Regions from separate parts of the Homo sapiens genome. Here region 1 is linked to region 2. A link means that fine-mapping ties the variant in region 2 to the expression of a gene that starts in the linked region. Tissue or cell type: whole blood. Region 2 holds a variant in brackets; the other region holds the start of a gene. All regions are shown on one strand. Distances are between the middles of the regions.

Region 1 (8,626 bases), 80 kb after region 2:
AATGGGATTAAAACTGAGCTCAAAAATGAGGAAGCAGATCTAGAGTCTGTTGAAACAGGGTGAAAGAGAGAAGGAAAAGAGATGACTGCTGTAGGAGAACCATGAAGGGAAAAGGATGGTGTTTGTTTCTTTGGACTTTGGGATGGCAAACAAAACTGTGTTTTGTCTACAGTGCAAAAAGCCTGCTCAGTCACAGGATGGGAACAAAAATTGAAGTAAGGTTCTAAAGGAATCTTGCAAAGTCTAGGGTCGAGAACACCTATAAATGATTTGCCTTCTTCAATTCTAATTATCCTCCAACTCATAATCCTGAGTCCTAACACATCCATTTCTATCTACACCTTTTGTTCATTCTTTAAAATGCTTACATCTATGACAGCATAGGGAGGCTATGAAGCAGAGCACCCAAGTTGAAATCCCAGGTTACTGTTATGTTACCTTGAGCAAGTTATTTGACATCTCTGTGAAATAAGATAATAATATCATCTCTCTTGTAGGATTATTAATAACTGTTTCTAATTCATGGAGAAGTTGTGAGGATTCAATGATTTAATTCATGCAAATCTCTTAGAAATGTATCTGCACATGACAAGCACTCCACATATATTAGCAATTATTATGATTCTAGGTACATGTAAGTGATTTATGTGAATTAACTCTTTGAATCCTTGAAATTCCTCTATGAGTTAGATACTATTATTCATCCCATTTCACATATTATAATGACATCAAATAATTATTGAAAACTTACTATTTTCTAGCCAAGGATTTAAATGTTTTATATGCAACAACAATAACCAACTTTACTATTTATAGTTATTTACTATAATTTTTCCTGCCCCCAAGCCCTGCCCCACCATCTACCCTCAAATAGGGGATTGAAGAATTCCTCTATAGGGAAACAAATCATCTCAGTGATAAAGTTAACATGATTTTATATCTGAGGATCTCCCAGGAAAGAGCTGAGTCCACACTCAATTATTCAGTGAGCTACTCACTCAACAAACCCTGCCCTGACTTACACAAAGAGAATCTGACTACCTTTTAGTGCCTCATTATTTGATTGAATAGAAAACCAAGGCTCTTTAGGTGGTTGGGGAGCTGTCTAACATAAGAAACAGAGATGGAAAGAGGCAGAGAGAGCAGAGGAACATTTTGTAATGAATAAGAAGGTATTACATCTGGGAATGATGAAAAGAATGCTATAGAAAACATTCTTGGAAATTAAAAATATAATAGTAAAAAGTTAATACATGGGCTGAAAGAGGAAAGTTGTAGCAAACTGGAAATATAAGAAAATTAGGTAATCAATCCAGGAAGTATTTGATGAATAAAAGTTCCAGAAAAAGAAAACAGTGGTGAAGAATGATTACCAAAGTTCCGCATAACTGAAGGATCTGAATCTCAATTGAAATAGCCCAGGGAGTACCCATAAAATGGGTAAAAAGGAACCATTTCACAGCTCAGTATTTTAAAATTTCAGAATACTAGACGTAAGAAGATTCTAAAAAGTTCAAAATAGGGAAAACAAAACACATAGCAATGTAAAAGTTATTCCACATGCCAAGGATGAGAATTTTGAGTAGCATTTGATTTATTTTTTTCTCTTGTTTGAGACAGGTTCTCACTCTGTCATCCAGGCTGAGAGCAGTGTCTCAGCCATATCTCACTGAAGCCTCGATCTCTCGGACTTAAGTGATCTTCCCACTTCAGCGTCTGGAGTAGCATGTGCATGCCGCCTTGTTCAGCTAACTTTTTCACTTTTTTGTAGAGATGGGATCTTGCTATGTTGCCCAGGCTGGTCTCAAACTCCTAGGCTCAAGTAATCCTCCCGCCTCAGCCTCCCGAAGTGCTAGGATTACAGGCGTGAACCAACACATCTGGCCAGTATTTTATTTGTTAACAGCAATTCTGGTATCTAAAAGACAGTGGAAAAGTACCTTTAGATCTATTATACAAAACCATTTTCAGTATAGAGTTCTATATCCAGTCAAACGATTAACATAGAACCAAGGGATTTTTAAACATACAAAGTCTCAAAAAGTTTACCTCTCGTTCACTCTTAAAGTTCTTAAAGAATTGTTCAGGAAACAAAGGACCGAGGAAACAAAGAAAAGAAAGGCATGAGATATAGAATCAGGGAATCAAATAATGGAGAAAGAAAATGATTCTCAGAAAGTGAAATAAATTCCCTCCTTAATAGTTGTATAGCAGGCCAAAGCAGATCTTCCTAAACTGAAAAAAAGAACAGAGGGCTTCAGAAAAGTTGTTCCCTTGGGGTAAAATAAACAGATTCCTTGATATGTTTGCATATATTGAGAGGAGATTAATATATCTGCTTGGGGATCAAAATAGTAATAGGTACATGGAGAACTAAGAAAAGAAACCAAAATCAAGGCAATAGTCAACTCTAGGGAGAACAAAAAGTTGTACGTAAAAGGAAATATAAGCATAGTCGAATATATTGCTCAATTATTAAGAATATGTACATAGGCAAAATAACATAAACACTCAAATTATTTAACCAAAATTTTGACTACATATAGTGACATGATAGGGTGGGAAATATGCATGCTTACTTAGCTATTTTAATACAGCGAAATGAAGAAATAGAACAATAACATGTTATTTTGAATTATGAAAGAAAATTCCATAAATAACTAAAAGATTTCAAAGTGCTGAAAGTGGTTGCTTCCGGAGAGTGGGAATCAAGAATGGAGTGGGTGGGGTTTGTTATAGTCCCCACACACTTTAGAACCATTTGATGTTTTAAAATATGGCATGTCTTGCTTTAATAAAAATTTAATAGGCTCGCTCCACACTCAATTAGCACAGTGAGCCACAAACTCAACAAACCCTGCCCTAACATACACAAAGAGTATCCTAATCACATTTTGGTACTTCATAACTTATAGACAACTCTAAGTAACAATTTTAAAAGTCCTTCAGCTAAATCTTATTTCAAACATTACCTTCAGGAAAAAAATAAATGACACTGAATCTGATCATTCCTAACTATATACTACTGTTATAAGACAAACAGTGTGCCCTTAAAAATTCTTCAGTCTTTCACAGATTTTATAATATTTCCAGTTAGATTTAAACTTTGAAGATAAGGAAGGGGTCATTCATCATCGATTATGTTATCTCCATCCACGGTACCTCTTCAAACCAAACTGTGTATGGCTGAAGAAAACCAAGGATCTGGTAAGCTACAGACATGAGCAAATACTTTTAGTACTGAAAAAGAATTGAGAAATTAACTCATTACCTTTAACTTTAGAAATGAGCAAAGAAACCCAAAGAGGTTAACTATAATTAGTTCCTAGGTAAGAAGTTCTCTATATTTGCTATTTGCTTTGATGTTTGCATCCTTATCCTATTACATATTAATTTTTAATATATAATATCCTATTTTTTGAAAGCTAACATTTAAAATCTGAATCATGTTAAATAGAAAAGGAAATAAAATTTTATGTACATCTAATAATGCCTGCTCTGGTCAGACATAGGTACTGCCCTGGTGAAAGAATTTCAGGCCTGCAATAGAGAAATTCAGCAAAAGATAAAATACCACTTTCCTTTGCTGTTTGCAAATTGGATCCATAGTCATTTCTTCCCAGTTTTCCATTATTATTTCCTGAAGTAGAATGAGTTACAGCAAATCACCCCCAGATAGGTGATTTGATTATCTTTAGCATGTGGAATCTGTTACTCTCATAATGCTTATCAGCTCTGGCACAAATTGAACACATTAATCACCCAAAAAAAAGAACTCTGCAAGAAGGATAGGAACCAGTGAGTTTCACTGATAATGGGAAAATGGTTCTTTTTTTAAGGAACACATTGCTAATATTAAGCTGAAAGAAAAAGACAATTTTGAGGAAGAGAGTGATAACTATAACAATGGATAAGGAAAATTAATTTAAATGGATATTATGAGAACTGAGGCACTCAATCCTCAGGGCAAATCGTACTTTGGCAATTATTTATATTTGATTCTAATGAAAAGCATACCAGACTCCCTTTGGGACTTTTTTGGGATGTAAAATTTGGAGGAGGGCTGAAAAATCTGAGTTCGAAGATTAGCATCTTATCTTTTCCCAAATGAACATGGATTTGTGCCTTCAAATGGTTAACGCTTATCTCTATGCAGCTGGAAATACAACACAAATGGGAGCCTTTGAGTGTTCAAAGCAAACGTGGAACCAAAGCACTGCAGGAGAAAGGCAGGGCAGGGCAGCGAGGAGGGGACGACGGGGAGCTGCTATCAGTAATTCGCCCTTATCCCTGTGCCCAGCCTGCGAGGCTGAGCGAGACCCATCTATCACTGACGCACAGCCAGTCTGAGGCTTGTCCCTTTGACAACAACGTCCCTTTTGTTACCTTCCTATTATGCCTGGCAGCTTCTTGTCCATGAATTCCTGCATGCACTGGTGTTCCGTGGAATGGTTGAGAAACCTCCGGAAAGATTCAACATATTTCCCGTGGTCAGAAAACAAGCTCCTCATGGAAGATGCCATATTTGGTTTTCTGAGAAAGACAGAGCAGGAAGCAAGGTTTAAGTTCCCCTCCTTCTCTTCCCAGTTCCCTCTTTCTTTCCCCACCCCCACCAGTTTCTATCCAAAAAAAAAAAAAAAAATGCTAAGCTTGTTTTGAATTTAACATGCCACAAAGGCTGGCTTGTAGAGCTCATTACTGAGTCAATATTTGAACGGGACTTTGCACTGATACTTTAACCCCTATACGGTTGTTTTGTAAGAAATAGAAGTATTAAGCAAGGCTGTAAATCCACTGCTAAAACTTTTCAAATTCCTGAGGTTGAAAGGTCATAAAAACAAACTGTATTCAAATCACTTCCTGTTTTGTCAGCAAAGCCACAAGTAAGTTCCAAGTGGGAAAGTGACTGTTCGAAGTGGCAAACACCAGGATAAAGAGGACAGCTACACAGCACTCTCAGAAATCTACAGCAGTGAAATCTTTAACGGAAGACTGTCATCTGCCTCTGTGCTTTCTACGGGATTGTTTTGGGCCTTTACATTCCTCAGCACTTGAATTTTCAACTTATCTGCTGCATTTCTTCAAATGCTGATTTGTTGTAACTCAGAAATTATCTTAAAAGGAAGTCACGAAGGAGGAGCCCAAGAACTCGTAGCTAGAAGGTGTCAGAAGCTGCATTTAGGGGAATGAGAGTGGTAAGAGAAGTCTTGGAGCAAGAATGCAGGACACCAGGGTAAAAGTGCAGTCCATAGAATCCTTCCCTAAGCGCGCTGAACACGACGAGGTCATAGATACTTCGCTTGGCTGGATGAGCCTTTGGAAACCCAGTGGTGTCCCCACCAGAAGAGCCAAAGCTTCAGAGTACCCACACACAGTCTTTTTCCTGGGAAGAGGTCTTTAAGAAGGTCATCCTTTATCTAATATTGGGTTGTTAATAATAGCATCCAACTCATGGAGGAGTGCTGAGGATCAAATGAGTTAACTCATATAAGTCTCTTAGAAATATGTCTGCTTAAACCGTCCCTTCTTCTAATTGAGTTCCCAAGCTGCCCTCTAAGCATTCAAAACACTTCCCAACTCTCTTTTTTTTTTTGAGACAGAGTATCGCTCTGTCGCCCAGCCTGGAGTGCAATGGTGCGATCTCCACTCACTGCAACCTCCGCTTCCTGGACTCAAGTGATTCTCCTGTCTTAGCCTCCCGAATAACTGGGATTACAGGCACCCGCCACCACGCCTGGCTAATTTTTGTACTTTTAGTAGAGACAGGGTTTCACCATGTTGGCCAGGCTGATCTCGAACTCCTGATCTCAAGTGATCCACCCGCCTCGGCCTCCCAAAGTGCTGGGATTACAGGCGTGAGCCACCATTCCCAGCCCCCAACTCCCTTTTATAAGTATGTTTTGTTCTCACTATTCTTAGAGCCAGTGCTTTTACCCCGGGGGAAAGTGTAATATCTGGACAGGCAGATTGCCATGGATGACTCTGCCCTTAATGAACTGTCTGACTTTGGCTGAAACATAAGCTGCAGTTTGCTCATCAGTAAAATGGGAATGAATTTTATCTTATAGGGTTGTACTGAGAATAATATAACTAATGTTTAAAAAGTGCAAGCCAGTCCCTCTGCAAAAAAAATATATATATATAAAATGACAAAAACAGTCGTCACTTTATTCACGGACATTGAAATTTGAGTTTCATATCATTTTCACATGTCATGAAATATTATCCTTCTTTGAATTTACTTTAACCATATAAAAACATAAAAGTTATTGGTAGCTCATGGGCTGCACAAATCAGGTTGGTAGGGTTGGGTTTGGCCACAGGCCTTATTTGGCCAAGCCCTGATTTAGCTCCTGTGCCCTTCACTCATCCTTAGATAAGGTCTTTGCTGGTTCTTTACTCACATCTCTATCCAACCAGCCTTCCCTTTCCTCAGATGGGCTCTGACAAACTTTTGCTTCTATTACCATCTTCCATTTTTCTCTTTAGAGCTCAACCCAAATCATTCATTCATTCATGTGTAACATCTATCTGTTTTTGTTTCACTTTAACCAAAACCAAAAATGGCCAATAATGTATTCATCTATTGAATAAAAGTTTAGTAAGAGTCTCTGTTTGCTATTCTGCTGAGGAATACTCCTGACATGACTTTCTCTTGGAAAGCTGCTGTTAAGGCCTCCCTTAACTGAAACTTGGTCTTCTGAGACCATCACCTCCCTTGCCTGCTGTCAAATATTCTCCAACAGAGCCAGTTCTTCATGTGGATCCCAGTGAGGACTTCCTTTCCGTCTCCACTGTTTCCACCTTACTTGAGATTCTCTTTATTTTTCACTTATTGTGCTTTTTTTTAAAAAAAAATTAAGTTCAAGAGTACATGCACAGATTTGTTACATAGGTAAACATGTTTTATTGGGGCTTGTTTTACAGATTATGTCACCACCCAGGTATTAAGCCTAGTACCCATTAGTTATTTTTCCTGATTCTCTCCCTCTTCCCACACTCCACCTTCAATAGGCCCCAGTGTGTGTTGTTCCCATCTAATGTTTCCATATTTTCTCATTATTTAGCTCCCACTTATAAGTGATAATATGCAGTATTTGGTTTTCTGTTCCTGCATTAGTTTGCTAAGGATAATGGCCTCCAGTTCCATCCTTGTCCCCACAAAAGACATGATCCCATATTTTTTATGGCTGCATAGTATTCCATGATATACATATGTCACATTTTCTTTGTCCAGACTATCACTGATGAGCATTTAGGTTGATTACATGTCTTTGTTATTGCATATAGTGCTGCAATAAACATTTACATGCATGTGTCTTTATAACAGAACAATTTATATTCCTTTGGGTATGTACCCAGTAATGGGATTGCTGGGTTGAATGGGATTTCTGTCTTTTGGTCTTTGAGGAATCGCCACACTGTCTTCCACAATGGTTGAACTAATTTACACTCTGACCAACAGGGTATAAGTGTTTCCTTTTCTCCACAACCTTGCCAGCACCTGTTATTTTTTTACTTTTTCATAATAGCCACTGTGACTGGTGTGAGATGGTATCTCATTGTAGTTTTTATTTGCATTTCTCTAATGATCAGTGATGTTGAGCTTTTTTTTATATGATTGTTGGCTGCATGTATGTCTTCTTTTGAAAAGTGTCTATTCATGTCCTCTGTCCACTTTTTCATGTCTTTTTTTTATTCTTGTAAATTTGTTTAAGTTCCTTATAGATAATGGATACTAGATCTTTGTCAGGTGCATAGTTTGCAAAAATTTTCTCCCATTCTGTAGGTTATTTATTCTGTTCATAGTTTCTTTTGCTGTGGAGAAGATCCTTAGTGTAATTAGATCTCATTTGTCAACTTTTGCTTTTGTTGCAATTACTTTTGGTGTCTTCGTCATGAAATCTTTGTCCATGTGTATGTCCTGCATGGTATTGCCTAGGTTGTCTTCCAGAGTTTCTATAGTTTTGGGTTTTATATTTAAGTCTTTAATCCATCTTGAGTTAATTTTTATATATGGTGTAAAGAAGGGATGCGGTTTCAACCTTCTGCATTTGGCTGGCCAGTTATACTATAGTGTGTGTGGTTTTTTTTTTTATTGGCTTTCCTGCTTTAGGAATCACACAGATCCTAACCAATTTTATTGCCACTGTCAACTTCATGTTTTTTTTTAAGTAAGTTTGGATAAAGACACTCTTTTCTTTCTCTCATAATATTTAGTCTCCCCACTGACCCCCACGTCAAGTACAAGATCCATTCTGTAGCCCCCCCAATAATTATCCAGAATTGTGTCTCATTTACCTCTAGTTTGCATTTATATCCCCTTCAAACTGTGCTGCTTCTCTGGATACATTCCTGTGCTTTTTTGCCTACAGCATCTCCTCATAATAGTCCCTTCTGTAACATGCTGCTTCCTTTCTTACCGCATCCATTGAAAAATTTTCTATTCTTCATATGCTACCACTTTCATATAGCCTTCCATATTTCCCTCAAAATAATCAGCACTCACGCTCGTAATTTCTGAGATTCTTGCAAGCATTCATCCTTGTGTTATTGTTGTTTAATATATTTGCCTTAACTCCCCTGCTTGTCCCCATGTGACTTAGCTCATAAAGACAGGAACTGA
Region 2 (8,626 bases):
AATACAGAGTTATTGCACCATCTAACTTATTTATTTTTATAAAGGGTTTCTGGAACCACATTGCAAACTTCTTAGGTGTAGGCTACACTTGAGTTGAATGCAGCACCAAAAAGCACTTCCAATCTGTTCTTCCCTTGAAAGATCACTGATGGATGCTGGTGGTATTAGTCTGTTCTCATGCTGCTGATAAAGACATACCTGAGACTGGGTAATTTATAAAGGAAAGAGGTTTAATTGACTCACAGTTCCACATGGCTGGGGAGGCCTCACAATCATAGCTGAAGACAAATGAGGAGCAAAGTCACTTCCTATGTGGTGGCAGGCAAGAGAGCTTGTGTAGGGGAACTCCCCTTTATAAAACCATCAGATCTCATGAGACTTATTCACTATCATGACAATAGCATGAGAAAAACCTGCCCCCATGATTCAATGACCTCCCACCAGGTCCCTCCCAGGACATGTAGGGATTATGGGAGTTACAGTTCAAGATGAGATTTGGGTGAGGACACAGCCAAACTATATTATTGGTCTAGTGAAAAACTGCAGTGCTGGACATTATCAGCCAGATTCTTCAGTGACATTTTTTGGTAATAAAATCCCATTGGCTAAAGAAACTGAAACAGAAGGATTAGAAAGGCAGCTTCTCCATCTTTGGACATGGAAATCAAAGGGGAAGAGGATGGCTAACACTTTTCTAAACTTCTTCCAGGGGATTGATCTAGTTTTATTTCAATTTGGAGAAATAAAGTGTGTCATCAAACTTGCATCCTGAACTTTTACATTTTTGACCATGTTTTTACTGTTAAGGCAGTTATGCATGTGTGCCTATATACACAGATAAGGTCTGGGGAAGACTGTGAAGCTGCAATGGGAAAATACATAACAGTATAAAATATAAGCATAGTGATTTAATCTGTTTGCAGATAATGTCAGCCTTACTTCAAAGCAAGTTCTAGTTGCTATTTAGTCTTCCATTGTCTTGAAGGATCTTTTGGAGGGAAGAATAACAGAATGTTTGACTTAGAAGGAACTTGGAAATTGTACAGCACTTTCATATGATGTAGAAGTATCCTAAAGCCAGTGCAGAAGTGAGACCTGATAATGGTCACATGGAGTAAACAGCACCAGTGAGACTGGAATCGGATGTTTCTGTGCCACTTCGTTCTGATCAAAAGCTACCTATAGTAACTACTCAAAGATAGCATTCTTTGCTTTCTTCCTAAGCATCAGGCATGCTTTATTTCAAGCTGTTTCCTTTGCAAAATTATTACTTTGCAAATATTAGCAGCTATGTTGGAAAACAACACAATTTCAGTGTTCGCTATGATATGAAAGGAGAAGGAAAGCTTTGCAAATATTTTTCTAAATATAAGTAATCCTAACTATGGGGCTAATCATTTTCCTGTCACCTTCATCCTCAATCTTAGTCTAAAAGTATATGCTGTTGAAAAACTTGTTCTGACAAGTACTTTTTTTTTTTTTTTTTTTTTTTGGATAGCAACACTTTTCTTTGCATCTCTTCAACTTTGGGCATCTGCAGGTCCTGCTTTGGCTTTGTTCCTAATTACTATATTATTAGCTGATTTTCATCTATTCTTGGCCATTTAGCCTACGTGGACTTGTTTTTTCTGCCCTACTAATTAGGAGTTGAGCAGTGGGGTAGCCAAAACAAGACTGCCCAGATTCAAGAGATAACCTCATTCAGTATCAATTTTCTCATTTCAACAAACTAGGGCTTCTTACATTTTGATGCATTCGCTTTCAATCCTAATCCGCTATTTAATAAACCTCCCAAATTAACAACCCTGGGTCCATGTGGCTTATCCAAGAGAGCCCTGTGAGCTCCTGTTAATTCAATCTCAGTGGCAGAGTCTGGGCTTGATCTGCTTCCTGAGAAGCTGTATCTAGTTTTAAGCTTCTGTGTTTGGCAGCTTCACTTGGAGAGAATTTACTAATAACTCAGAGTGTAGTTTCCTCTGGGTGCCTCTGAGTGTGTGTAGGTTTTACATACCACAAGAGAATGAAACTATTGATAAAAGTTGAGCTTTACTTCACTAAATAGGAAACTCACGCTGGATGGAAAAGAAACTTAGACTCTTTGAATTGTTCCCATTAAATCTGAAAAGTCCTAATTAATTCTCTTCAGTGGTCTGCATTTCCAACCATTTATGGATTACAGTAGAACAAGGAAAACAGGGCCTATGAAGAACCCCCACATGGTTGAATGCTCATCTGTTGCTGTCTTGAAACTCTAAAAGCTGTAATCTTTGAAGGTATGTTTTGAATGTGCAACCTTGAAGCATGTGGTTGAACAAAGGATGTACATGGAAAAAAGGTAAATGCTTTCCCCTGTAATGACACTGTTGTCCAGCTTTTTGAACAAGGCTCTCCCTTTTTCATCACTGCCCCGAGTAAGAATGAGGAATATATCAGAGTCCCTACTTCAGCATGGCCATTTGTACCCACATATGGCCCTGTAACCTTCTGTCCTGGCTTGCATCCTACTCACACATCACCTTAATGACTCAGGTTCTCTTTTTCTCTCCTTCACTAGCAGTTGTTTAAAACTATTTATTTAGCACTCGCTCTATGCCAAACACCATACCCAGCACTTCACCCACATCGCTCATGGAATCACCATAGTGGCTCTCTGGGATCAGTGTTCTCATTATTCCCATTTTATAGGTGAGGAAATTGGAATTTAGGTTAATAACTTGTCCTGAGTCACATGGTAAATGTTCGAATGAGGATCTGTTAGGGTTTGAATCCTGACAGATTAAAGTCAGAGCCAACGCCCTAGAAACATGAATACAGGAAAAACAACATTTTAAAAAATGCCCAACTCAAGAATATGATCTGAATATTACACCCTAATTAATCCACTCCATGATTTCATCAGTGGTCTTTTAACATTTTATTGATTTATTTTTGCTTTTTTAAAAAAGTGTCTTCAATATAGTAGTATATTAGATTGTGATCTACTAAAATCCATCTTAACGAGGCATCAATGAGGGAATGACAGCTGTGATAATAGTAATAATAATGACCATCTACTTTCTCTCATTTCATTTTCGTTATTTAAAAAAGGAGTAGCTGAGTAACCTGTTTTTCTGCTTAAGGTCCTTAGGTCAAAATTGCACTTTCATTCACTTTTTATTATATTTATTTCCTGATCTCTCTTTCTGTCTCTCTTTCTCAATCTGAGACTAGGTTTAGAAAAATGTGTGTGGTACAAGTGGCAAGTTCAAAATCTGTAGGTTTCAATTTCTAGAACCTGATTCCTTAAAAGGACATGTGGCCTCCATACCAAACCTGCAAATATTTCCAAAAACTCCTCTTTGTATAATTCACCATTTATGTCCAAGAACAATCCAAAAGCCTTGCTGCAAGACACTCTCTCCCTTGACTGCCACGTGGGTCACTGCAAATCCTGATCTTAGATGATATTTCAGTCTGAAAAGAGGGAGAGTGGTTCACTTTCATGTCATTCCTCATCTTCTTCTATGGCTACTAAGTCAAAATCACATTGATACACATTTTATAATGTTTTCCCCAAAATCCATGTGTTAAAGCTCTAACTCACAGTGTCTTACTGTTAGAATGTGACTGCATTTGGATATAGGGCCTTTAAAGAGGTTATTAAGTTAAAATGACAGCATTAGGATGTGCCTTATTCCAATAAGACTGGTGTTTTTAGAAGAAGAGGAGATTCAGCACACAGACACACCAGGGATGTGCGTGCACAGAGGGACGACCATGTGAAAAGACAGCAAGAGGACAGCCACCTGGATGCCAAGGAGAGAGGCCTCAGAGGAAACCTACCCTGCTGCCATCTTGGTCTTGAACTTGCAGGCTCCAGAACTGTTAGAAAACAAATTTCTTGTTTTTTTGTTTGTTTGTTTGTTTGTTTTGAGATGGAGTCTCACTCTGTCACCCAGGCTGGAGTGCAGTGATG[C/T]GATCTCAGCTCACTGCAACCTCTGCCCCCTGTGTTCAAGTGATTCTCCTGCCTCAGCCTCTCAAATAGCTGGGATTACAGGCGCCTGCCACCATGCCTGGCTAATTTTTGTATTTTTAGTAGAGATGCGGTTTCATCATCTTGGCCAGACTGGTCTTGAACTCCTAACCTTGTGATCCACTCACCTTGGCCTCCCAAACTGCTGGGATTACAGGCATGAGCCACCACACCCGGCCACATTTCTGTTCTTAAACCACCCTGCCTGTGGTATTATGTTACAGCAGGCTTAGCTGACTAATACAGGATTCTTCTCATTTGCAGGCAAACACATTCTTAAACTGCTCACCTTGTTCCCTGTCCCTTCCAGCCATTGTCTACTATTTTGAACCCTTCTTCACGGTCAACTTCCTAAATCATTTATGTAGTCATCCTTGACTTTTTCCATCACTCATACTTAACATCCAGTTTATTAGTAAATTACACTACCTTTAGCTTTAAAATATTTTCAGATTTTGATTTTTTCTCACCATTTGACTACTACCATCTGGTGCAAGCTGCTATTATCTCTTACCTGGATGACAACGATAGTCCCCAATGGCTCTCTCTGCTTCTACCTGGTCCACCTTGCAGCAGCTTCTGATGAAAACCTACTAATTACCTTGCAACTTAGAGGGAAAGACTGTCTTTGAAAAAAGATTTCTAAAGCCAGACATGGTCTACTCTACCACCCCCTTTCACCACGCTGACCTCACCTACTACCCCTTTTTACTTCATGCATTCTACTCAAGCCACACTGGGTGTTCATTGTTGTTTCTTATCAATGCTATTCATGAAGCCACTTCAGGTCTCTTGTATGTACTGCCTCTTCTGCCTGGAATGTACTCTTCCCAGATTTTTATATATATATATACTTTAAGTTCTAGGGTAAACATGCACAACGTGCAGGTTTGTTACATATGTATACATGTGCCATGTTGGTTTGCTGCACCCATCAACTCGTCATTTACATTAGGTATTTCTCCCAATGCTATCCCTCTCCCATCCCCCACCCGCCGACAGGCCCCAGTGTGTGATGTTCCCCGCCTTGTGTCCAAGTGTTCTCATTGTTCAGTTTCCACCTAGGAGTGAGAAAATGTGGTGTTTGGTTTTCTGTCCTTGCGATAGTTTGCTCAGAATGATAGTTTCCAGCTTCATCCATGTCTCTGCAAAGGACATGAGCGCATCCTTTTTTATGGCTGCATAGTATTCCATGGTGTACATGTGCCACATTTTCTTAATCCAGTCTATCATTGATGAACATTTGAGTTGGTTCCAAGTCTTTGCTATTGTCTTCACAGATACTTTCATGGGGCATGCTCTCTCTCATTTTCTATAGGTCTGTGCTCCGACACCTCATCATGAGAGAGGACTTCCCTAGCCAACTTCTCTGACCTCCCTAGGTAAGACAACAACCATATCCACTCAGCACTCCTTTAAGTCCCTTTAAGTCTGGCTTAATGCTGCATTATTCTTTCCAGCTGACATATCACATATTTATTTGTATGTCTATTGTCTTTCTTCCCTCTACAACAGAAGTAACTTGAGACACTGTCAATTGACTGCTCAGTCCCAGCATCTGTAGCAGTGCCTGGAATGTAGTAGGTCTCAATAATTCTTTCCTGAAAAATAGCTCCACTTTATTATTTCCCCTTTATTCTCAAATTTATTCCAAACTGGTTTTTCCTCTTGTCTTCTGAATTTTCTCTTATCAGGGTCTTCAATGACCTCTGTTCTGCTAAACCCTCAACTAACTTTACCTCTCAGATGGTTTTGACAGAATAAAAAATGACCCTCCTTTTGAATCACTCTCTCTTCCTAACATCTGTGATTTTTCTTCTGTGCCGCTGGCCAATCCTCACTTTCTCCTCCTTTATGCAAACCTGAAGCTGTGCAGTTCTTCAGAGATCTCACCAGAGTCCTCCTCTCTTCTCACACTTCAGTTTCTCTCCAGGTGATCTCATCGCCTCCCATGGCTTTAAATACCATGGGATATTAAAGTCAGGAAATCTATTTTCTCACTCAGCATTATCTTCTGAGCTTTAGGCGGATGCTGTCATTAGGAATCTAGGTGTGATGTGTGGAAACTAAGTGGCAAACCTATTTGTCCTTGAGTGTTACTTCCCTCAGAAAACATTTGATTGCTTAACTTGGAAAGCTGGGAGTCTCTTCCCTTTCCCTTACTTCTCAGATTCAATTCACTAGCAAGTCCTGTCCATTCCACTGTTGAACCATACCTTCTGTGTCCGCTGACTTCTCTTCATCTCCTTTATCACAGCCAAACCACCATCATTCCCTACCTGAACCACTGCAACACCCATCTAAATGGTGTTTCTGCTTCTGCTTTTGTCTTCTTTTAATCTGTTCTCTATGCAGTCACCAGTATAATCATATGATCATGCCACTTCCTTGCTTAAAATACTTCAAGTGACCCGCATTGCAATTAGGTTTTTAAGTCCATCACGATCTGGCCTCTAGCTATTTCTTTTGCATGACGTCTCATATCTCCTGCTCCCACTCATCATCCTACACATGCTTGAACTCATAAATAGCTCTTATTTATTGAGCACCTATTATGTACATTGTGGTAGTTATTTAACCTATTTACTGTATCATTTTCACATTATGCAAAACAAGCATTAATGTCCCTAAATTTTAAATGAGAAAGTTGAATTCCAAGGAAATTAATCATGCAACTGAAATCATATTTGTTAAATGGATGAATAAATGAATGAATGAATTTGACCAATACCACACAGTTGGATGTTATAGATATTATTCACCACACAGGTTTATTGGGATGATACACAGGCCAATTTTTCAAAGCATAAAGTACCAAAATATAAATTTTTAAATCATATTACAGTTTGAAGTTTGTGTTAACCTGTATTAAAAAGGCACTCCTGCTGGGTGGGAAATAGACAACTAAAAGGCTGAGTTCTCAACATTAAAGAGCTTATTTTCTCACTAGGCGGGCAGGGCTTACATACATTGAACTCATAAGGAACAATAAAACATGGCATTTAAAAATCCCTGGGCGAACAACTGGAAAAAATCCTGTTTTGCATGCTGTTGCAGAAGGACACAAATAAAGAAAGGGGGCCCCAACCGATCAACACAGTCAACTAAGTTAGCCAATGGAGTGATGCATTGTAGACAGTCTCTGACATACAGTGTAAAAGCCCCTAGAACTTAGCCCTGAGCACATAACCAACAAGAGTGTGTCAAATCTGAGCTTACCAAATAGTACCTAACAAATGAGGTCTCCGCTGACAATATGTGCACCCCACTCCTACAACTGCCCACTCCATTAACCTCCATACCCTTTAACCTGATGTATTCTCTTCCTTCTCACCACCTGACACCATCTAATTATCTGCTTGTCATCTGCTTGTTGTGTCTCTGGTCTGTAACAGGGGCTAGCACTTGGCAGTTGCTGGAGAAATAATGTGTTACCTGCATGAATCATGAAGCACTAGATTGAACTGAATCCAGTCCTTAACTGAGGGACTCAGAGATTAGGATGGTCACTGTAAAAATTATGGATTCTACTGTTACCCCTTCTTGACTGCAAAATACTGCCTAATTTTCTGCTGTCAGTGTTCAGGATAGGTTTCCCTTCCTTCTTAGCACATCTTGTAATAGGGAAAGCTGCAGCCCCATCCACCCATTGTCCCCAGAGAGTATGACCAGAGGCACAGGCCAGGCCCTCTTTAAAGACCCTCTGAGAGCTTCCCTGGGTAACTGTTTGGTGTCTCAGTGGCCTCACTTCCTTTGCTGCTGGCTCCAACCCAGAAGATCACCAGCTCATCTCCAAATGTGCTATTTATGACGATTCATCCAGATACAGCCTTCCAGAACCCAAGGCCCCACACCGGCTCCATTCAGCTGAGACAATGTGCCCAAAAGCTACTGCAGGTTTCACTAAATTATGGAGCAAATGTCAGACTTCCCTCGCATTATCAGACACACATTTTACATGGCCTCTTTATTGGGTTTTTATATCTTGAGGGGGTCTTAATAGGATGAAAGGGAGGCTTGCTAGGTGCAAATGAGTGCCGTTCGACTATTTAAAGGCACATTTAATTAAACTGGATTCATTGCCTGCATGGGGCAAGTTAAATGAAAACTAAATAGATGGAGTATGATTACATATTATTAAGAAGAGAGACAGCTCTGGAGACCAAATTCTTTTAACACAACATTAAGCTGAGCTCATTTCATATGCACAGTTTAGCACCGGCCTGTAAGGAGAACGTGTTTTGAGAAAATCAGCAGAATGGTTATGAGCTCTAAACAGCTTTTAATAAAATGCAATGTTTCAGGGAAGGAGCAGCTTCTAAGCTTCACTTAAATATGCTAATTAAAGAAAATGAAGTTTCCCACTGATTCCAGGTTCCCTTTGTGTTCCCTCTATTTTTTATGTTCATCGCACCCAGGCTACTTTCTACCTTATTTTGTAAACTCCCAGAAATGCTCCAGATTCCTTATTAAAAAGATATCTGTGCTCACTGTGAGTTGGGAAGAGAAGAAAATAAACCCAAGTCTGCCAAATTGGTGACTTTATTCAAATTGGCTCTCTGGGTCTGGGTGTCCATAGACTGAAATAATCCTCAGCTTCTAGCTAGAATCAAG

The links. PIP is the estimated chance that this variant, and not a neighbour inherited with it, causes the effect.
Region 1: it holds the start of HNMT, and the variant in region 2 is fine-mapped to the expression of HNMT in whole blood (TOPMed, PIP 0.94).

What each region holds. Positions count from the first base shown.
Region 1 is chr2:137,960,389-137,969,014 of GRCh38, reverse strand. HNMT (histamine N-methyltransferase) reads right to left here and starts at 4,542. Exons shown (of 6, transcript NM_006895.3): 1 at 4,387-4,542. The coding sequence starts at 4,523.
Region 2 is chr2:138,040,331-138,048,956 of GRCh38, reverse strand. It overlaps LOC107985948 (a long non-coding RNA gene), which reads left to right and starts at 5,219. Exons shown (of 3, transcript XR_001739719.2): 1 at 5,219-5,394. It overlaps LOC105373636 (a long non-coding RNA gene), which reads left to right. Exons shown (of 3, transcript XR_923367.2): 3 at 2,147-3,477. The variant C/T (reference allele first, on the strand shown) is at 3,956.